2 linked regions of the Homo sapiens genome follow. The protein of the gene in region 2 interacts with the protein of the main gene of each other region in a pairwise test. Each region holds a gene or a part of one and is shown on either strand. Other genes may lie near its edges. The genes, in order: USP20 and SAMD12.

What was found.
Region 1: the proteins of SAMD12 (region 2) and USP20 interact in binary tests that used the Homo sapiens proteins (3 or more experiments, as listed by UniProt).

What each region holds. Positions count from the first base shown.
Region 1 is NC_000009.12:129,863,019-129,874,137, forward strand, and holds part of USP20 (ubiquitin carboxyl-terminal hydrolase 20), read left to right. Parts: intron 1-167; coding exon 168-281; intron 282-2,284; coding exon 2,285-2,363; intron 2,364-4,986; coding exon 4,987-5,431; intron 5,432-5,843; coding exon 5,844-5,984; intron 5,985-6,291; coding exon 6,292-6,407; intron 6,408-6,586; exon of another isoform or gene 6,587-6,653; coding exon 6,654-6,826; intron 6,827-7,434; coding exon 7,435-7,529; intron 7,530-10,463; coding exon 10,464-10,497; intron 10,498-10,680; coding exon 10,681-10,726; intron 10,727-11,119.
Region 2 is NC_000008.11:118,617,467-118,628,618, forward strand, and holds the start of SAMD12 (sterile alpha motif domain-containing protein 12), read right to left. Parts: upstream 4,498-11,152; 5' UTR 4,351-4,497; coding exon 4,338-4,350; intron 4,190-4,337; exon of another isoform or gene 4,069-4,189; intron 3,721-4,068; exon of another isoform or gene 3,535-3,720; intron 1-3,534.

The sequences.
Region 1 (11,119 bases), on a different chromosome or scaffold from region 2:
TTTTCTCATAACTGGTAGGAGCCTTCTAGTCACCTTCAGGAGTTTCTGGGTCCAGGGCCACTGTGCTCCCTGTGCGAGCACTCAGGGCTCCCCGCTATGCAGCCCTTTCTAAACTGCCGCATGCCTCATTTGCTCTCCTGACCTGGCTCTCTCTCCCCTGCACCCAGCCCGCCGCTGACTCAGTTCTTCTTGGAGTGTGGCGGCCTGGTGCGCACAGATAAGAAGCCAGCCCTGTGCAAGAGCTACCAGAAGCTGGTCTCTGAGGTCTGGCATAAGAAACGGTGAGCAGCTGCATCCCTAGCCTTGGGCGGTGTGTGGGGACTGGGGTTTCCTGTCAGCACCCATGATTGAGTACTTCCTGTGGATTCAGCCCCCAGCGAGGACTTGCCTCACTTTGTCCCGGGTAATGCTTGCAGCAAGCCTGCGGGGTGGAAATTGCATCCAGTCCTGTTTTACAAATAGGGAAACTGAGGTGCAGAGCACTTTAAGTATCTTGCTCAAGGTCATAGAACCTGCAAAAAGTGAGCTAGAATTTGACCTACTGTTGACCCTACCGAGCAGCCACTGGTAGATGTCTTTGCCAAGAGACATGGTGACCCGGCCTCAGCCAGGACTGTGTGTGTAGAAGGAGGTGTGGGGCAGGGGAGCACAGACTGGATGGAGCTTCTGGCACAGTATGAAATTAATTTAAAGATCAGAGTCTGTGATTAGATCTGTTTCTCCAGGAAAAGTCAAAGTTGGGAATAATTTTAAATGAGCACATAGAAATATGTATTATGTGTAGAAGCGGATGAAAAACCAGCGTAGGGCCAGGCGCAGTGGCTCACGCCTGTAATCCCTGCACTTTGAGAGGCTGAGGCAGGTGGATCACGAGGTCAAGAGATCGAGACCGTTCTGGCCAACATGGTGAAACCCCGTGTCTAATAAAAATACAAAAATTAGCTGGGTGTGGTGGCGTGTGCCTGTAGTCCCAGCTACTCGGGAGGCTGAGGCAGGAGAATCACTTGAACCTGGGAGGCGGAGGTGGCAGTGAGCCGAGATCGCACCACTGCACTCCAGCCTGTTGACAAAGCGAGACTCTGTCTCAAAAAAAAAAAAACAAAAACAAAACAAACCAGCATGGGAGAAATATGTATTAAATGTAGAAGCAGATTAAAAACCAGCGTGGGGCCAGATGCAGTCACTGACACCTGTAAATCCAGCACTTTGGGAGGCCGAGGCAGGAGAATCATTTGAGCCTAGGAGTTTGAGACCGGCCTGGACAACACAGCAAGACCCCGCCTCTACAAAAACTACAAAATTAGCTGAGTGTGGTGTGAGCACTTGTGGTCCCAGCTACTCAGGAGGCTGAGGTGGGAGGATCGCTTGAGTCCAGGAAGTTGAGGCAGGCTGCAGTGAGCTTGATCATGCCATTGCACTTCAGCCTGGGCGACAGAGTGAGACCCTGTCTCAAAAAAAAAAAAAAAAAAAAAAAAGTCTGTGTGCAGTGGCTCACTCCTGTAATCCCAGTACTTTGGGAGGCCGAGGCGGGTGGATCGCAAGGTCAGGAGTTCGAGACCAGCCTGGCCAATGTGGTGAAACCCCGTCTCTACTAAAAATACAAAAATTAGCTGGGCATGGTGGCGCGCACCTGTATTCCCAGCACTTTGGGAGGCTGAGACAGGAGAATCACTTGAACTCGGGAGGCGGAGGTTGCAGCAAGCCAAGATCATGCCACTGCACTCTAGCCTGGGAAACAGAGCAAGACTCTGTCCCAAAAAAAAAAAAAAAAAAACCCAGCATGGTACAATATAATTCCGCTTGTGTAAGAAGCCAAGTTTAAATGTGTATCTGTATGTATTTTTGTATATGCATCTGTAGTTTCACAGAACCAGAAATCTAATGGTAAGTATCTGGTGCCATTGGTGGTGGTGTTTTTCTCTTGTACTTTTCTGAAATTTTAGATTTGTCAATAATGAACATGTCTTACTTTTGAAATGAGAAAACCACAGTAAGTGTTTCAGAATGAAAACAAATCATGTTTAGGCGAGTTTGTTGTGCACCAGAAGGAAATGATGCTATTTTATTTGAGCTCTTTGCTTAATTGAGGCAGCTATGACTTGACATTTTCTTCTTGTCTGTAGAGATGTGTGAGCCTCTTGGGGCTCCTGGCTGAGTAGGCCCCTCCCCAAATGTCAGGAAACGCCACACTCTGATCCAGCCTGACGGGCTGGCTGCCTGCTTCTCTCGGGAATGAGCAGCTCAAGGCAGGCTACCTGGACTAATGGGTTTGGGCTTCCTACAGGCCAAGCTACGTGGTCCCCACCAGTCTGTCTCATGGGATCAAGTTGGTCAACCCAATGTTCCGAGGCTATGCCCAGCAGGTAAGCCATCTGAGCTGCCCAGGGGACACCCAAGGCCATGACCCACCAGGCCTGACTTTGACGCCAAAACCAGAGTGGAAAATCGCAATGGCAGCTGAGCACTGGTTGGCAGGTCTCACGGACCAGGCTCTCACTCCTAAGCCCTTCACACGTGTGAGGACAGTGGAGCCTCCCAGCAACCTGCTGACATTTAACCCCACTTCACAGATGGACAGACTGAGGTTCAGGGGCCGAGCCACTTGCACAGGCCACACAGCTAGTAAATGGTGGAGGGGAATTCTTTTTTTTGTGGGGGAGGGTGGGTACAGGGTCTCACTCTGTCACCCAGGCTGGAGTGCAGTGGTGCAGTCATGGCTTACTGCACCCTCGACCTCCCGGGCTCAAGCAGTCGTCCCACCTCAGGCTCCGAAAGTGCTGTGATTATAGGCATGAGCCACTGCACCCGGCGGAGGGGAGATTTGAACCCAGGCAACCTTGCTGCAGGGCCTCCGCGTTGCACCCAAAATGACACAGGGTTTCATTTCCCCAAACCACAGGCAAAATTTCACTTTTATTAAAGTAAAAAGTTTGATTAAAAATTTTTTTTAAATCTAGAGAACCCTTTTGAAACCAATCACATTTTTCTATTTTATAAAATAATGAGACCAAGACAGAGTGCAGCCACGCGTACACCTCAGCCCCGGGCTGATGGCTCCTGCCCTCCAGCCTCCTGCCCCAGATGGCCCACAGCCTGGGCTTTCATGCCAGGCCTGCAGGCAGAGCTGGACCTGGCTGGGTCACCTCTTGTGCTGCCTGAAATGAGCACCATGGACGGAGTGGCAGTCATGTGGGGACAACTTCCGCCCTCTACCCCCTGCCTGCTGTCCCGTCCCAGGATGAAGTCTGCTGGGCCTTTGGCTCCTGCTTGAGAAGCTCAGCACTGCCTGGACACCTCTCTTTTTGGGGAGTGATAACATGCACAATGACTAAAATTCACTGAGCACCATTTAAGTGGTCACAACTTAGTCCTCATAGAAGTCTCACAAAGTGGGCACTGTTGTCACCCACACGTTACAGGTAAAGAGCTGAGGCTCAGAGAGGTTCTACCCCTCACCCAGGTCACACAGCACATCCTGGCAGAGATGGCATTCAGGCCTACCTGAGCCCATCCCTCAGCACAGCACCACCCTGACTGTGTGCAAGGCGCCCTGCCGGCTTTCAGCTCTGGGTCAGGATGCCGTTACGGAGGGCCATGCGCTGCGGCAGGACTCCATCTGGGCTCCGGCAGAAGCATCCCTTTCTGTGGTTTTAGGATATCGTGTGGGGACACTTCTGAGGCTGAACTGTAGACGCAGCTGCGGGCGCCTCTTAAGGGCCAAAAGACTCTTTTGTGCTTCTGCATGGATTGAGATTTTGGCAAGGAACACATAGTACTTTTGTTGAAAGGAAGAACCAGAAAGAGAAGTAGATGGCAGATTGAAAGCCTCTTCTTGAAAGGGCCTTTGATCGTGCCTGCCACAGGACACGTGTCCCCTCCCTGATGCAATGTAACCTCGTGGTTCATTCCTCTGATCTTGGAGCCTGACACTTTGCCTTGGGGAGTCCCTCCTGAGCCCTCCCTTCCCTGCACATGAGTGGAGAGAGCCGGGATCCTCTTCCCAGATGTGTGACATGAGGCTGGCTCTGGCTGCTACGTGACCCCTGCCTCCTGGGGATCAGAGCCTGGGCTGAGGGCTGCTTCTAACAACCAGGTCAGGGACTGCTGGGGCTGATTTGGGCTCGGAACCCAAGTCCTTCTCCAATGCCCAGCACCACCCGAGCACCCGCTAGCTGCTGGGGTCTGCTGCCACCACCACGTTCTGACCTCCCAGTGCACCCCCTGTGTGAGCACACAGATCTCAGTGGGGCTCACTGGGCGCCTCTGCCCGAGCCCCTGCTGCCTTGGCTTCCTGCTGTGCTGGTGGCCCAGTCACAGAGTGGTCAGGATAAAATGGTCATTGCTGGGATTTGAGACCCAGGCAGCCTGCAGGGGCAGCTTAGACTGAGTCATGACCAGGTCTGTGGGAAGGTGAGAGCAGGCAGTGAGGGTATGTGGGGGCTGGCACAGGGACTGAGGGAGCAGGGGGAGCCAGAGGAAGGGTAGAGCATGCAGGCAGTCTGGCCTGTGGGTAGCGTGGCTTGGGGCAGGACTCGGGTGAGTCCTCTTTTGGCATCACACTCCCTCATCCTTCCGCCACCCCCCTGCCCACCTCCACTGGTCTCATCTGTAGGGAGAAAGGTGGCTCGGGCTTAATGTGGTACTGCCTCTCTGTCCCTCCCGTGCTGAGCTTGCAGCAGAGGCAGGAGATTCAGAGCCGGAGCCGGGGAGTTGCATGGACCCAGGTGCATACCTGGCTCTGACACTTTCTAGCTGTGTGTCCTGGTAGGTGTCCTTTAGCCTCTCCAGTCCTCACTGTTATCCTCAGAAGAATGGGGTTAGGACAGACTGCCATGGGAGGCCGCTGTGGGGGTGAGCAACTCTTCTGCAGGGGGCGCCCATGAGGTCCTCCTAGATGGAGGCTGGCGCTCTCATCAGCCACAGGGCGCTGGAGACTGGTTCCTCCTGCCTCCAGGGGAGCCCTGTTGATGCAGCCCCTGGTTCTAGGACACCCAAGAGTTCCTTCGCTGCCTGATGGACCAGCTGCACGAGGAGCTCAAGGAGCCGGTGGTGGCCACGGTGGCGCTGACGGAGGCTCGGGACTCAGATTCGAGTGACACGGATGAGAAACGGGAGGGTGACCGGAGCCCATCAGAAGATGAGTTCTTGTCCTGTGACTCGAGCAGTGACCGGGGTGAGGGTGACGGGCAGGGGCGTGGCGGGGGCAGCTCGCAGGCCGAGACGGAGCTGCTGATCCCAGATGAGGCGGGCCGAGCCATCTCTGAGAAGGAGCGGATGAAGGACCGCAAGTTCTCCTGGGGCCAGCAGCGTACAAACTCGGAGCAAGTGGACGAGGACGCTGATGTGGACACTGCCATGGCTGCCCTTGACGACCAGCCCGCGGAGGCCCAGCCCCCGTCACCACGGTCCTCCAGCCCCTGCCGGACGCCAGGTATCAGCTGGCCGGGGACTGCGGGAGGAACCTCAGCCTATGGCCCAGTACCTACCGGGTGCTGAGCGCCGACCTGCAGTAGCCCCCGGGGGACGGGTTCTTCACTAGACCCGAATGACAGTGGGGAAGTCAGCCTCCGGGGGGGCTCAGTGATGTGCCCAGGGTCCCCTAGCTCATAATGCTGGAGCCCAATTCAGAGCCCTCTCCCAGAGCCCTGAGCCTTCCAGCCGGACATGGATTGGACAGGTCTGCTCCGGCCTGTGTGCTGGGGCCAGGAGTGGGCACATGACAGAGGAGACACATTAGGGTCAGGCTTTCGTCCCTTTAGGAGGGGCTGGCAGGTCATCTTCCTGCCCACTCGTGGAGCTGGCCTGGCTGCCCTGGCCCAGCATGGTACCCTCTCTGCCCCCAGAGCCGGACAATGATGCTCACCTACGCAGCTCCTCTCGCCCCTGCAGCCCCGTCCACCACCACGAGGGCCATGCCAAGCTGTCTAGCAGCCCCCCTCGTGCAAGCCCCGTGAGGATGGCACCGTCGTACGTGCTCAAGAAAGGTTCGGGGGGCACGGGAGGGTGGGTCAGCTTGAGGCTGGGAGTACAGATTACGCCCGTAGCTGCCTTTCTCATGGCCCCCTGTGGCGGAGGGCCGGGCTATGGGCTCCTCTCAGGTACACCCCTGAGACACCAGTGTGGGAGCCACGTTTTGCAGAGGATGACACAGAGGCATGAGATGGTGAATTGCTTACCCAGTCATGTGACTCACGGATGTCACTCCACATCCTGTCAAAGGAAGCCGCAGGGCCCGCACCTCGCCCCGGCCAGGCAGGTGGAGGCTGGGCTAGTCCTGTGCTGTGTCCCCAGCCCAGGTATTGAGTGCTGGCAGCCGGAGGCGGAAGGAGCAGCGCTACCGCAGCGTCATCTCAGACATCTTTGACGGCTCCATTCTCAGCCTTGTGCAGTGTCTCACCTGTGACCGGGTGGGTGCCCCAGGGATGGGGGGAGCTGGGCCAGGCTGCCAGTGGCCTCAGCAGCTCTTGCCCTGACTGGGTGCAGGGTGGGCTCTCCACGGGTGCTCCCTGCTTTTATCCAGGGGAGGGCCCTGCCTGCGTGGATCCCGTGTCTATGGCCTGGGGAGTAGTCCCTCTGCCCCTCACCTGCTGCTTGGGGTTTGGGGTGCAGACATTGCCAGAGGATGGGCAGCAGACTGACCTTCAACCCCACAGGTATCCACCACAGTGGAAACGTTCCAGGACTTATCACTGCCCATTCCTGGAAAGGAGGACCTGGCCAAGCTCCATTCAGCCATCTACCAGAATGTGCCGGCCAAGCCAGGCGCCTGTGGGGACAGCTATGCCGCCCAGGGCTGGCTGGCCTTCATTGTGGAGTACATCCGACGGTGCGCCCACCTTGCCACTACTGGGCGACATGGGCTGGGCCTGTCCTGGTTTTCCTGGGCGGGAGACAGTACACAGTGAAGTCCATGCATTTGGGGAACCAGGGAGGTCCTGGGAGGAGCTGGGGGCCGAAGCCTGCAGAGGAGTTGGCTTAATATGCAGGGGATTTCTTGGCTACTTTGAAGTGGCCAGGATTGGATAGTCCCTTGGAGCTGGAGGGCGATGGACAGCAGGGAGGTGACCACATGGCAGGTTGAAGGGAGGGCAGCAGCAGGACACAGGCCTGGTTGGCGGGAAGGGCAGCAGCTTTCCCAGGGCTGCCTCTCCTGCCTGAGGCCAGAGACCCGCATGACCCCAGGGAGGGGGTAGCATGATCATGGCCGCAACACAGATGAAGGAGGCCAGGCTTGCGGAGAGATGATGTCACTCGGCCCAGGACACGGACGTGTCTGGCTCCAGGCCTCTGCCCCGACCCGCCGTGCCCGGCTGCTTCTCTGGGCCTTCAGGGTCCTTCTGCGGCTCAGGCCTGACAGACCTCAGCCAGAGTCCCTTCAGCTCCTGTTCTTGCCCAGGCCCTGGCAGCACCCCTGCACTCCTTTTCTGTCTGTAGGTTTGTGGTATCCTGTACCCCCAGCTGGTTTTGGGGGCCTGTCGTCACCCTGGAAGACTGCCTTGCTGCCTTCTTTGCCGCTGATGAGTTAAAGGGTGAGGGGCCTGGCTGGCAAGGGTCGGGGAGGTGGAGGGTTGTGGGGACGGGGATGTGCAGACCCCAGCAGGCCAGCATGCAGCCCAGGGCTTGTGGGATGCACAGCCAGGCTAGACTTGGCTTCCAAGGTTGATCCCATCAGATACCCACGCCCACTGCCAGCCACGCTGGACCAGGGCCATGTGCTATCCCAACCCCATCATCTTGCAGCTCTTGAGTGTTCACTTATTTTTATTTTTACCAATTTGGTGGGCAAAAATGATGTATGTTAATTTTTCATTTCCTTGATTACTGATGAGTTTCTACATTTTTTGTTAAATATACTGGCTCTATGTATTTATTTAAACATTGCCCATTCCTGTTCTTGTTCTTTTTCTCCGTTGGCTATTTGGCATCTAAACCTTTGGGAAAACTCTCTCTTTTTTTTTTATTTCCAATTTTCAATTGCGATAAAATACACAAAATGTAAAATTTACCACCATAACCATTGTAAATGCTGTTTTTAACAGAAAGTGCACAGTCGAGTAGTGTTAAATACATGCACATGGTCACGCAGCCATCCTCCCCATTCATCTCCAGAACTTTTACATCTTGCAAACCTGAAACTCAGTATCCGTGAAACAGCTCCCTACTCCCACCTCCCAGCCCCTGGCAACCTCCACATTCAAGTCTGTGAATGTGACTACTCTAAAGGCCTCATAGAAGTGGAATTATACAGTACTTGCCATTTTGTGACTGACGGCTTTTACTGAGCATAACGTCCTTAGGGTTCATCCACGTTGCAGCGTGTGTGTCGGAATGCCCTGCCTTTTGTATGCTGGTTATTTATTGTTCCATTGTGTGGATGGCTGGGGCCTTTCTGCTTATTCGTTCATCCGTCAGTGGACACTCAGGCCGCTTCCCTGTTAGCTATTGTGAGGAATGCTGCTCTGACCATGGGTGTGCACACCTCTCTTCTTTCATCCCTTTGGGTCTATGCCTATTTTTAATTTCTCGAGGAGCCACCGTACTGGGTTCCACAGTGGCCACCCCATTTCACATTCCCACCAGTGACGCACAAGAGTTCCAGTTTCTCCACATCGTCGTCCACACTCATTTTGTTTACTTTTTTGATGGGAGTCAACCTCATGGGTATGAGGTGGTATCTCATTGTGCGTTTTTTTTGTTTTGTTTTGTTTTGTTTTTGAGACGGAGTCTCTCTCTTGACGCCCAGGCTGGAGTGCAATGGCATGATCTCGGCTTATTGCAACCTCCACCTCCTGGGTTTAAGCGATTCTCCTGCCTCAGCCTCCCGAGTAGCTGGGATTACAGGCACATGCCACCACGGCTGGCTAATTTTTGTATTTTTAGTAGAATGGGGTTTCACCATGTTGGCCAGGCTGGTCTTGAACTCCTGACCTCAGGTGATCCGCCTGCCTTGGTCTCCCAAAGTGCTGGGATTACCGGCGTGAGCCACCGCACCCAGCCTCGTTGTGGTTTTGATTTGCATTTCCTAATGATAGTGATGTTAAGTGTCTTTTCATATGCTTGTTGGCCATTTGTAAGTGTTTGGAAAAACATCTATGTGAGTCTTTTGCCTATTTTGTTTTTTGTTGCTTGTTATAGGGATTCTTTTTTTTCTTGAGACAGAGTCTCACTCTGTCACCCAGGCTGGAGTGCAATGGCATGATCTTGGCTCACTGCAGCCTCCGCCTCCTGGGTGCAAGCAGTCCTCCCATCTCAGCCTCCCGAGTAGCTGGGATTATAGGCACGTGCCACCACACCTGGCTAATTTTTGTATTGTTAGTAGAGATGGGGTTTTGCCATGTTGGCCAGGTTGGTCTCGAACTCCTGACCTCAAATGGATTTGCTGCCTTGGCCTCCCAAAGTGCTGGGATTACAGGTGTGAGCCACGGTGCCGGCCTCGTTAGTTAGAGGAGTTCTTTATGTGTCCAGATACGTGACTTATAACCCTGTCCTCCCATCCTGTAGGGTGCGTTTCATTCTGTGGTTTGTGTCTTTTGCTTTGGTTGCCTGCACCTTTGGTGTTGTGTTTCAGAGATCATCGCCAGATCCAATGTCATGAAACTTTTTTCCTACTTTTCTCCTAAAAGTTTTATAGTTTTAGGTCTTATATTGAGATCTTTGATCCCATTTTGACTTAATTTTCACAGTGTGCATGGAGGGGGAAACTATACATTAAGATTTTAAGCTGGTCATGGTGGCATGTACCTGTGACCCCAGCTACTCCGGAGGCTGAGGGTCCTCTGAGCCTAGGACTTTGGGACCAGCCTGGGCAACATAGCAAGACCCTATCTCAAAAAAATTGTTTCAAATACATTTTCTGTAATTAATGTTGCACTTCCCACCCCACCTCCATTTTGCCTTTTGCCTTTTAATTTTGCTTTTGGTGGTATCTTACAGATGTTGAAGTATTTCTGGGGTCAAATATAACCATTTCTCCCTTGTATGGATTCTGGCTGTGGGGCCCAGCCAGGGCCTTCCCTCCCTCCAGTACCTCTCAGGTTTTATTTCTTTTTCTTTTTCTTCTTCTTTTTTTTTTTTTTTTTTTGAGATGGAGTTTTACTCTGTCACCCAGGCTGGAGTGCAGTGGCATCAGCTCACTGCAGCCTCTGCCCCGAGCCCCCCAGGTTCGAGCGATTCTCCCACCTCAGCCTCCTGAGTAGCTGGGATTACAGGCACGCACCACCACGTCCAGCTAATTTTTGTATTTTTAGTAGAGATGGGGTTTCGCCATGTTGGCCAGGCTGGCCTCGAACTCCTGACCTCAGGGGATCCGCCCGCCTCGGCCTCCCAAAGTGCTAGGATTACACGCATGAGCCACCATGCCCAGCCAGGTTTTATTTCTTAAGCAGAAATCATTATAGTCACTTTTTTTTGCTCCCTCATTTTGCATCCTTGCTAACCTCTGACCCTTTGTTTTACTGCCCTAGGTGACAACATGTACAGCTGTGAGCGGTGTAAGAAGTAAGTGAGCCTTCCCCCGCCTTCTCCCTAACTGCCGTTTCTGTGCCCTACATATTCCCCTTGGGTTCCTGCAGAGAGCCCCCTATAATCCTGCCTTCCCAGAAGGGAGCCGGGTGGAGGGCTGCTTCCCTGGCCCCTGGCCCTGATGCCGGACACTGATGCTGGCTCGTGCTTCCTCCCCAGGCTGCGGAACGGAGTGAAGTACTGCAAAGTCCTGCGGTTGCCCGAGGTGAGCCAGTGGCCTCGGCAGCCTCCTCCTCAGCTATCTCGGGATGCACACCAGCACACACCAGGCAGGGGCTGAGCCTGCTCCACTGCTCGGGCACTTCTGTGCTGCAGGGGCCGTGGAGACTCCATAGCTTTGGCTGAGAAACCTCTGGGAAGGGTTGGCAGGGGGCACATTTTTCCAACTGTGACTTGGTGCCCTCTCTCGGTAGCCTCAGCACATGTTGTCTAACATGTTGTATGAGGGCCCAATGGGAGGCAGGTGTGTGGGACACTGGGTTACCACCCCCAGTGAGACAGCTATGGCTCCTGCCAGCTGCAGAGTGGCGGGAGGAGAGCTGGTCCAGCTGGGGCTGTTGCCAGGGGTCTTTCTGAGGAGTAACGTCTGAGTGGGGCC
Region 2 (11,152 bases):
GGAAAATTCAGATCCCTTAATATAGATGTCATTAAGAGCACACAGTCTTGCATTTGACATGTTTTTCTTGGGGAGAGAGGTGAGTGCTGAATATTGGAAATCATTTTTCTGCCACATGAGAGGTGCTATTCTGTTAGACCTGGAATAGAAATTACCATGTACAATGTCCATCCTCCCTATTTTTTTCATAAATATCTGAGGACAAAGCAAGAAAAGGAATTGGGGATGAGGGGTAAAAAAAAAATCCTTCTCTAGCTCTGGAGACTCGTGCATTTATATGTCATTCATGAAACAATGACTGTGGGCCTCCTAAGTGCCAGGCGCCATCCCTGGAATACAGAGATGAATACAAAGATGAATACGACACTGTCCCCAATGAATCCACATTTTTCTTCTCCCTGAATAATATTGCAACCCATTTCTGTTAGAAAACATCAATAGGTTTAACCGTCTATACACAGTCTGTCCATAGAGAATGGATTAGTTTGGGGTCCCTGCTACCTCCTTCCAAGAGGTCCTAGTCCCCAGTCCTGCTAAATTATTTCACAAGACATTGTTTTTGTTTTTTTTTTTTTTAAAAAAAGGCAATGTATGCCAGTATAATCCTAATCCAAATGCAGACCATAAGGTCGTACCCTGTTCTGTGGCGGGAAAGCATACCTGTAAGCTGCCCATAAATGCAAAGCATGGGTCACAAGCAGACTAGGAGACATAAATAGGATGTTGCAAATAAACTAAGAAGAAAACATAACACAGGGTAGTTACAAAACAATAAACAAAGGGCACCTCTTTTTCATCTTAAACACACGGCTGCAGGTTCAGCAAAGTGAATGAGTGAACTACTTGCTAGTAACACTTTTACAAATTCAAGTTTACTTAAGAAAAAGTTACACATAGTAAAAAACCTTCTAATTTGTTACTAATTAGAAAAACTGGCTGGCATGAATAAGTGAAAATTCAGGATATAAAACACATGCCAAATAGTATAGCTTTTCCTAAGAGAAGGGATGAGAGTACAAGTGATATTTACTTAGGATGCAGGTTCCAGACACCCTTCTAGAAGCCCTCTCCTTTATTTAATCCTCACAATGAGCAGGGCACGGTGGCTCACTCCTGTAATCCCAGCACTTTGGGAGGCCGAGGCGGGCGGATCACGAGGTTAGGAGATGGAGACCATCCTGGCTAACATGGTGAAACTCTGTCTCTACTAAAAGTACAAAAAAATCAGCCGGGCGTGGTAGCAGGCACCTGTAGCCCAGCTACTCGGGAGGCTGAGGCAGGAAAATGGCGTGAACCCGGGAGGCGGAGCTTGCAGTGAGCCGAGATCGCGCCACTGCATTCCAGCCTGGGCGACAGAGCAAGACTCCGTCTCAAAAAAAAAAAAAAAAATCCTCACAATGTTCCCAGGAGGAAAGCAGTAGTGAGCCCATTTTTTCCAGATGTGGAGACTAAAGCTTAGAATGTTAAGCAATTCGAACTGTATTTTCTATTCCAGTTCCTCTGGCAAAACTCCTTATTCTCTGAAGCAGCATTTCTCAATAAGTTGGGTAAACTGATCATTACTTGGCCATGGCTTGGCCTCGTTATACGGGATGGCCATGCGCTGCAGGACATTTATTATCTGTGGCCATGGGCACAAAATACCAACAGCAGCCCCCAGCAGCAGTTCCTACATATCCCAAATGTGTCCAGGGACAATGTCACCCAGCAGTAGAGGTAAACTGTTCTAAAAGATTTTTTGGGCATCAAGACAAAAGACTGAAGAGAAGGGCACTTCGAGGTGGGCAGATCACGAGGTCAGGAGATCGAGACCATCCTGGCTAACATGGTGAAACTCCGTCTCTACTAAAAATACCAAAAAAATTAGCCAGGCATGGTGGCGGGTGCCTATAGTCCCAGCTACTTGGGAGGCTGAGGCAGGAGAATGGCGTGAACCTGGGAGGCGGAGCTTGCAGTGAGCTGAGACCGCGCCACTGTACTCTAGCCTGGGCGACAGAGCAAGACTCTGTCTCAAAAAAAAAAAAAAAAAAATCTCCCATCCTCAAATCTGTCAGAAATCCCTTATTGTATCACATTTAGGCTTCCAAGAAAGCCCCATGTACCCTTATAGAACCAGTTACAAAACCTCCATGAATATATTTGCCATGCAATTCATGAGCATTGAGTACCTATTATGGGCAAAGTACTGTGCTATGAGCTAGGAATATAAAGTCCAAGTCTAACCCCCAAGGGGGTTAGAGTCTAGTAAGAGGCAGATTAAGTATGATAAGTATTAAGATAAATGTGAGCAGGAGGCACTTCCCATAGACTGGAAAGAGTGCTGAGAAGGCAGAAGAAAAAGGAGGGCTGGGACAGTTTCCCAGAGGAAGTGACATTTTCCCAAAGGCTTGAAAGACCAAGTAGGAGTAACCAGGAAGGGACTGGTCCAGGCTGATATCTTTGCAAAGACCAAAGATAGGAATCATATTTGAAGTTAAAGTTTAAAATACTTCCTTCATTCTTTGAGACCTCATTGTGATTCAAACTCAGGATCTCCTGTTTACTAGACAGGTACTTTAACCAAGTCACTAGAAAATAAACTCTCCATAGTCCACATGTACTTCCTTCCTAAGTTCTTGTTTTTGTAAAGTCTGGCTTCACTGGTGTAATCACCCATCACGCAAGAAATAAGACAAATTTATACTTCTTACAGGGAACAAGAAATTGTTTTCGAGAACAGTGTGGACTAGCAACAAAGAGGAGTGTCCCTGTCTTGGGGACACAGGAGTGGTGAAGACGAGAGATCATAATCAGTGTCACCTGATGGGTGACATAGAACGGACACTTAAGGAGTAGGTCAACATATCCTTGGTCTCAAGCTCAAGATGAACTTTATCTCGGCTTTTGTTTTGTTCTTTGGCATCTGAAGTCTTGACTATCAAGCATAACGATGCAAAAAAAAAAAAAAAAAAAAAAAAAAGATTCTCACCCTACTGGTACATTTGCACAGAAAAGAAAACCTAGAAAAATCTTGATTGTAAGAGAGAGAGAGGATTTCATTTTTGTTAATAAAGTTAGGAAAGCTGGAAGTGGCTGGCTGTGGATCTCTGAACCTGAGATAGCCCAAAGGCAAGAGTTTCCCGAGTTTATGGGTGCTGAGTATAGGAGCTGGGTTGTTGCTACTTCAGGTTGTTAAGACAGTCGTTATAAGGGGAGCAAGAGTCAGATTAGTTCAATTTCTTTCTCCTGGGGCAGGGAGGAGAGGGAGCAGCAAGCCAGCCTCGTGGCCTTCTCGTCTCTAGCCTACAAGGAATAGGCTGATTTCCCCTTGGCAAGGCGCCTGAAGCAGCTGGCAGGCAAGCCCTCCTCTTCCTACTTCAGTACGCCCTCTGACCTGACTGCACTCAGAAACCAAAATTCTGCAGGTGAATGTAGGCTCCCATTTCGTCCCACAATCATTTCATCATTCAGGCACAGCTTGACCTCTAATGTGACATCACAAACCCTTCCGGTCCACAGTTTTTTTTTCTTCTTCAGAAACTACCTAAACAAGGAAGTTTGTGTTCCAAGGTAAGATAACCTGAAATGAAAAACTCAGGATCCCTCACGAACAGCCTGACCCTGCTTTCAACCAGGAAGTTCAAGGGAGGCAGGACTTTACGGTCAAAACTGCAAAGCCGAAGCTCAAGACTGTAAGAAGAAAGTGATCTTCAAAGAAAAGGATTCACCCAAATCGAAGAGGTTGTTGCACTTCTTTTCCCTGGCTGATTACATTTCATGTCTGTAAACTTTGCTAAGCCCGGGGCGCTGGCTGTATAAGCAGAGACAGGTGTAGGGACACCTCTACCCTCTGGGTACATCTGCGGCCGCCGCTGCTGGGTGCATAGGACGAAGGGCCCTCGACCCAATCCCAGTCCAAGCTTCCGGATGACGCACCTGGGCTGGGGACCTCTCCCACGTGAGGGGGGCCAACCAAGCATCCCCAGCCCCGGGGCCACCCAGCCTGCTCCGGAGGGAGGGGGCAGGGAAAAAGGGCATCTCGGGGCCAAAACCTCATGCCGGATCCTCCGGCTTTCCCCCCATTTCCAGGATATCGTTTCGCATCAGGGACACTCGTCTCCACACCTCCTACCTCAAAGTCCTACGCACCTACCCTTCACGTCTCTCCAAAGCAACTGAATTAAAGCGCCTACTGGCCTTGGCGGCGCAGGTGAGTGCCAAGAGGTGGAGGAGGAAGGGGCCCGCTCTCCGCCACCCCCTTTCCTCGCCTCCCCACGATCGCCAAGCTTCATCGGGGATGTGTGCCTTGGGGTGCGCGGGTTAAGAGGGAGCTTAAAAATGCCCCAAGCGTCCCTTACCTTCCACAGCCATTCTCTCAGAGCTTCCCTAACGCATGCATAATTTTCTTGGCCGAGGTACTCCTCCTGCCCCGCGCTCCCCCCTTCCTCTCGCTTTCGCCTAAATATTCTGCGCTTATCTGCTCCAGGACCAACCTGCCGCGGTCACGCAAAGCGAGGCAGCCGGCTCCCGGCTCGGCGCGCGCAGGGCGTCCTGGGAAGTGTAGTTCCCTCCCTTCGCTCGGACTGGGGAGAGCACCCCGACTCCTCCGCGGAGTGCCGCCTGGCCCCGACACTTGGAGAGCAACTCCAGCTTCAGCTGGCCAGGCCGAGCAATCTCTCCTGGGGAAGTTGTGAGGGGACCAGGGATGCCTGGTTGTGGCGGGGCGGGGGGGGAGGGGGGGGGGGTTCCCGGGAAGCGGTCTGGACTACATCTCCCAGGAGGCCGTGCGCTGAGATAGGTTCGCTGCTAAGAGTAGGGACCCGTGATTGAGCCCTTCCCTGTCCATTACAAGGGGTTTGGCACCTAGCAGGTGTGGTGAGGTGGGCAGGTGACGGTCAGCTGTGTGATGAGCTCCTGCGAGCTCGTCCGTGGGCCTCTGCCGCCGGTACCGCCCCGCCCCCTGGCCTCCTGAACCACCATTTAGTAGGGAGAGCAGGACCACTGTCCTCCTGTGTGGTTCTCCACCTGGGCCAGAGAACGCTGCCCAGGGTGAGGTTGAAACTTGTTCCTTCGCACCCTGAGATGTATGGGTTTTGTGGGGGAATTCCGACGGTTGATACAGTTGTCTTATCCTACAGGGTGGTTCAGGTGGCTAAATACTTGGCATGGGGGTGTAGGGGAGGAGGAGTGGCTTAAACCCCAATAGGCAACGTCCCCAAGGGGTTGTTAGGAACAAAGTCTGGGAGCCAGGATTGCACCGGAGGAGGTCAGATGAAAGCCTGTCTGGCTTCCAGGATAGGAGGCTTTCAATTTGCCTAGACTTGGAGCCTGTTGACAGCCTGTGATAGGGCCTAATAATTAACAGTGCCTGAGAATCAGGTTCCTTCAACTTCTGAACCTATGTCCTAGCTGTAGGTGCTGGGGATGCTATAAGCAGACATGATAATGGGAATCACGTGGATAGCAATACAATTCGACAGCTCGTAAAAATTAAGTTTCTAAACATTTTTTCCTGCGTGTGAAAATACGGATACAGTTGTGGCTGGAAGGGGTAAGGGAATAGCCTCGGGAATAAATCTGGCTCAAGACTGGATTGACTTTTAAAGGCCTTCAGTTTACAAATGTATTTGGTACCACATCCACCCAGTCACTCATATATAATGTTAATCTCTGTAAAATGAGGAAGTACAAAAATCGGATTCTTCCCATGATGACTACTTAGACATTTTTGTGTGTCTTGGTCATCAGCAAAAAAAAAAAAATGTTTTTCAAAACAATTTCGTTTCTCAGTGTATACATGCACACCTGTTGTTCTGGTCACTAATTACATGCTTAGTTCCCCTACTGGGTAATATATAATAATAATATGTGTATAGGTACTTTAAAAAATACCTGCGTGTAACCATTAAATGCTCTTGTTGATACTTTAATTCTGAGTCCATGGAGCTGTGTACAAGTCAAACCTAAGCCTCTCTTTTAGGTACAGTAGAGAGAGACCCATTCAGTGAGACATAATTTCCATGGGAAAAAGAATTTTCCGACCTAATACACAGCCAAGCATTCTAAACTCTGGAAAGAACTGAAATCCAGGTGCTTCACTACTTTATGTATATAAAATCACCAAAGTGTTAAGTATTTTCTGAGATTGAATGAATGTGAAAGAAAGCCATAGGACAGGTAGTATCAATGGTTCTCAACCTTGGCTGTGCATCAGCCTTCTACAAATATATATTCCTAAGCTTTTATCTTAGTCTCACAGAATCAGAGCTTATGGGGGTTTGGGTAGAGGCACTCAGGTTTTAAAAACCCACAGGTGATTCCAGTCTTCATTGAGGGTGAAAACCATTGGTCTGGTTCCAAGCTTTTAAATATCTGGGTGATATAAAAATATAAAAGTCATTGAAATCTGTGGTTAATTTTAAAACTTCATCTTAGCTCATCTTTAATATTTTTCCCAGTGATGTGCATTCTAGACGAGTTTTATTTTTAGTATAAATAAAATGTGAAGGAGATGTTAGTTTCTACCATATGAAATAGCCAATGTTTGACCATTTTTAAAACCTACAAATAGAACAATTTCATGTGGTTCTGCCTAATAAGGGATAAACAATAGTTGCGCAGAGGTTTTCAATTCTGGCTGAACATTAGAATCACCTGGGAAGTACTAAAAAAAAATTACATTTATCTCTAGAATGTTTGAAAGATAAAGACACAAAATACCAACCGTTGGCAAGATTGTGAAGCAATAAAGATTTATATATTGCTGGTGGTGTGCAAATTCACAAAACCACTTTGGAAAACCATCTGAAATATTCAGCTGAATATATGCTTATCCTGTGACCCAGAAGTTCTACTCCTAGGTTTACACCAAACAAATATGCATACAGATGTTCTCCAAAAGACATGTGCAAGAATGTTTGTGGCTGCATTATTTTAATGTTCCCAAATGGAAAACAACTCAAATATTTATCAACACAGATTGGAGAGATGAACTGTGGTATAACCAAATAATTCCATATAGCAGGGGTCAACAAACTAAGACCAATGAGCCAAATATGGCTCACCATTTATTTCTTATAACTCACCAGCTAGGTGTGATTTTTACATTTTTAAATGGTTGGAAAAAAAACAAAAAAAGTATAATTTGCAAAGCCTGGAAATTATAAAGACATACTTACATAATATCCTCAATTTTGCCTCTTGTCCTACAAAGCCTCAAATATTTCCTACCTGATCCTTTGCAGAAAAAAAGCTTTCCAAACCCTCCTATAAAGTAATGCAAATGAAGGAATTACAATTGTATACAACAACATGATGAGCCACATGTATTAATCGATTGCTGTTAACAAATTATCCCAATATTTAGTGGTTTACAACAATACCCATGTATTACTTCAGTTTCTGTGGCTCAGTAATTTGGGCACAGCTTAGCTTCTGCTTTAGTATCTTTCACAGACTGCAATCATGACTTATTTTTGGTCTTTTTTATCAGCAGCCAAGTACAGTTCCTAACAGATATACCCAATTTTAGCAAGGGGCAAAGTCCAGACCTCATCCCATACCTCTCATAAGCCAAATTCTGTGTTCATTATGATGCTATTGTTTGTTCCTTATAGTATATAAGCACTTCGAGTGCTGGAACTGAGTCTTATGCTTCATATCTTCCAGATTCTTGGTCATAATTGTGGTTACATAGTAAGTACTCAATAGATAATTTATTACTACTATTTTTTTATCCTTGTTATAAGTAGCATTTGTTGGGAAATTACAAGTGCCAAGCTCTGTCTAAGCATCTTGACATACATCATCTCCTTTAATCACTACAATATTGTCAGATATCACTATTTTCCAGATGAGGAAATTGAAGCTCAGTGAATTTAAGTAATTTGCCCCATGTCTCCAAAACATGAATTGTAGCAAGGGGATTGAGGTCTACCTAAGTGTAGAACTCTGTGATGTTACTCCATCTAGATTTCAATACTGATTACGTGATCACAAATCTGAATTCATAAGCACTTGGCCAAATAGGAATTGTCATTACTAATAAAATGAAGGGTTTAAAATATTTTAATATCAGAAATTGTGATATTTAGAATGATTCAAAAATTTCTGAATATATCAGAGAGCACAGAAAGGGAAGGAAAAGCCCATTACCTTATAGTGAATTAAATAAAAAAAGAAATATTGAGATGAGGCTACAGATTTCACTGGATTCTAAGATTTAAAATAGTACATATAAGTACTTTACTGTATTTATTGTTCTAACTCGGTTGCTATATTCACAAGCCTCTACAGAAAACATTCATAAATCTCAAAAAGTAAATAGATTATGTTTCTATTCTGTTCAGGGAGATCTTCTAAACCTAACCAAAAGGATTCAAACCCTAAAAAGTAAAATTTTTGACAGGAGGAACTGAGAGGAAAAAAATAATTTTTTTGTAATTAAGATAAAAAATACTAACTCTAATCCTTGAGTCATGAATAAAGTGCCAACCATTCAAGTTATATCAGGCTTCCATTGGAGGAAGTAAGCATATTTCAGGGAACATGATTTAAGCAAAAGCCTAGTTGTTTTTGCTTAAATCACATTGTGCATAATTAAATCGCATTGTGTGTTATCTGTTTGTTGATAAGTTGGTGATATTCTATACCATCGTTCGTCTAAACTATACTTTCAAAATCAGACTTAAATTATGTCTTCAAAATTTGAGCAGAATCTGTCTACCTTTATATTAACTGGTTATCTGAATATTTGGCTTCAGTACTCAAGTTTCGTAGACATACAGAACTAGATTGTAATCCTGACTCTCATTTACTCGATGTTGGTTATTAGCAAAGTTCTTTGACATTTCTGTGCCTTGGTTTTCCCACATGTATTGTAATGCTATTAATTGTGTAATGTATACATTACCTAGCTCACAGTTTGGGGCTCAGCAGTGACTGAGAGAGTATCTATAGTGTTGTGCGCTGTCCTGGCACATAATGGATGCCCAATAAGTGTTTGCTCTTTTGATCATCCATGGAAGCCTGAGAGGCCATTCCCAAAGAACATGGATATAATTCAGTTAAGCAGTAGCAAGGGCCTCAGGATATTTGCCAAGTGTGGAGTAAGTCTGCCCAGTCCGACTTGTAGTTAAGCCACTGAATGAACTTAACTTGATCAATGCAGAGCCTCCTCTGACAGGCAAGAAAACAGGGCTGTGCCATGGAAGAGCAGTGTCCTGGACACTTGTCCCTTTTTGGATAGGTTTTGTTGATAGAAAAGAGTGTGGGATTATTGTAGGCTCTAGTGGCTGACTGCATACAAACTTTCTGTGTTCTGGATTTCCAACCCTGAAGTATTAGGTTGGTGTAAAAATAATTGCAGTTTTTGCCATTTTTTTTTTTAATGGTAAAAACTGCCATTACTTTTGCACCAACCTAATAAATTTGCAGCACCTCTTCTGAGCAGAGTTGCCCCTACTTCCCCAACCAGGGGAAATTGTAAACTGTGTGTAAAAGCATAGGAATGGTCATCTGGAATTACTTGTCATTGGTACACATCAGCACAAGAGAACACTAGAAGAGATGCAACTTATTTTCACAACTGAACTATTCTATGCCAGATGTTTAAAAACTTAAGGTGTGATGGGCTCCCTTTTACTACTACTTCCAAAATGACCAGAAATCTTTACTAGGCAGAGATGCTAAAGCTGACCGCTTACTGTAGTTATTTGACCAGTCCTTTCCCTTCCCTTCTGTTCCTCTGTTAATAATTACCTAATAAACTTTATATTTTTAATCATTATATAGGGTACAGTGAGCCTTCACATACATTATTGCATTTTATCTTTACAATGGCTGTCAGTGGATAGTATTTACTTCATTTTATAGGTATGAAACAGAGGCTGGGCAAGGATGGATGATTAGCCCAAATTTATACACCCAGACAGAGCCTGAATTCAACACTTGAGACTTCTGCATTCAGTACTTTTTTCATTCCATCTCAATGTACTTTCTCATCAGGTGTAAAAGTGCCACTTACCCTATTGGCTTCCAAAAATATATTGAAATGCACTCTGACAGGAAGAATCTCATTTGATATCGGGAATTTCAACAAAATCCCACCTTATTTGGGCAAAAGAACTCTCTAAGAGTGAAACTTTTCTTGAATGAGCTTAAAGTACAGTGATCTTAATGGAAGATTTTAGCTAGAAGATATTCATCTTCAGTACTCTTCAAGTCTAAGCTACGGTTTTCTCTCACTAAGACCACTACTAATTTCAGTAGTTTACTAATTAGTCTATCTGCATACAATTCTTCCCCAGTGTGGCTTCTCTCCACCAGCAAACAGAATGGTATGACCCAAATCTAATCATCTCACTCCAATTTGAAGTCATTTGATTGCATCCCTTTACTCTTTGGTTAAAGCCTACAAGCCCTAGCAAAGTTTTTCTTAGGCTCCCATTCTGGGTTAGTTTTCTCCACAACACTCATATCAGTTTGTAGGAATATATTTATTATTTTCATTTAAATAGTGTCAGTATCCCCACTAATTCCATCGGATTAAGAATGGACTCTGATTTTGCTCCCCTTTGATCTTCCAACCACTAGCACTGTATCTGGCCCAACAATACATACTTAATACATGTATTATGTATCTGTAAGTACTGTCTGACTGAAGGAGCACATGAGTAAACTACCTAATCATAAATGTGTTTATTTTTCCCAATTAAACTGCAGGTTAGTATTTTGTTTGTGTTTGTGTTAATGTTTTATACTCTTAGAAGTAGGCTTTTTTTTTCTAACCTAGAATCTGTTCAGAAAGGACTTAGAGGCAAGTTACTCTAAGTCCTATCATTTCACAGTTGAGGCAGAAAACCAAAAAAGTTTGCCAGGATCACATCATAGCAGAACAATGTCTAGAACCCAGGTTCAGGCCAAGGTTCTTCATTGGTGGTTTGATTTTTGTTTTTGTTTTTAGAGGATGTGGTGGGGAGAGATTTCTGTTCCACTGGGCTCAGTTTGGCTTGGTGGCTGAGCTTTCAGTCAAGGAGGCTGGGGCAGCTCTGCTCCTCGCTGCAGGTTTTTGAGTAAGCTGGGGAACTCTGCCTCAGGCTAAAGGGGCAGCAGCTAACGGCAGAGGAGCAAGAGAGAAAAAGGAAATATGCAAGGCTTTTAAGCCCTGTCTCAG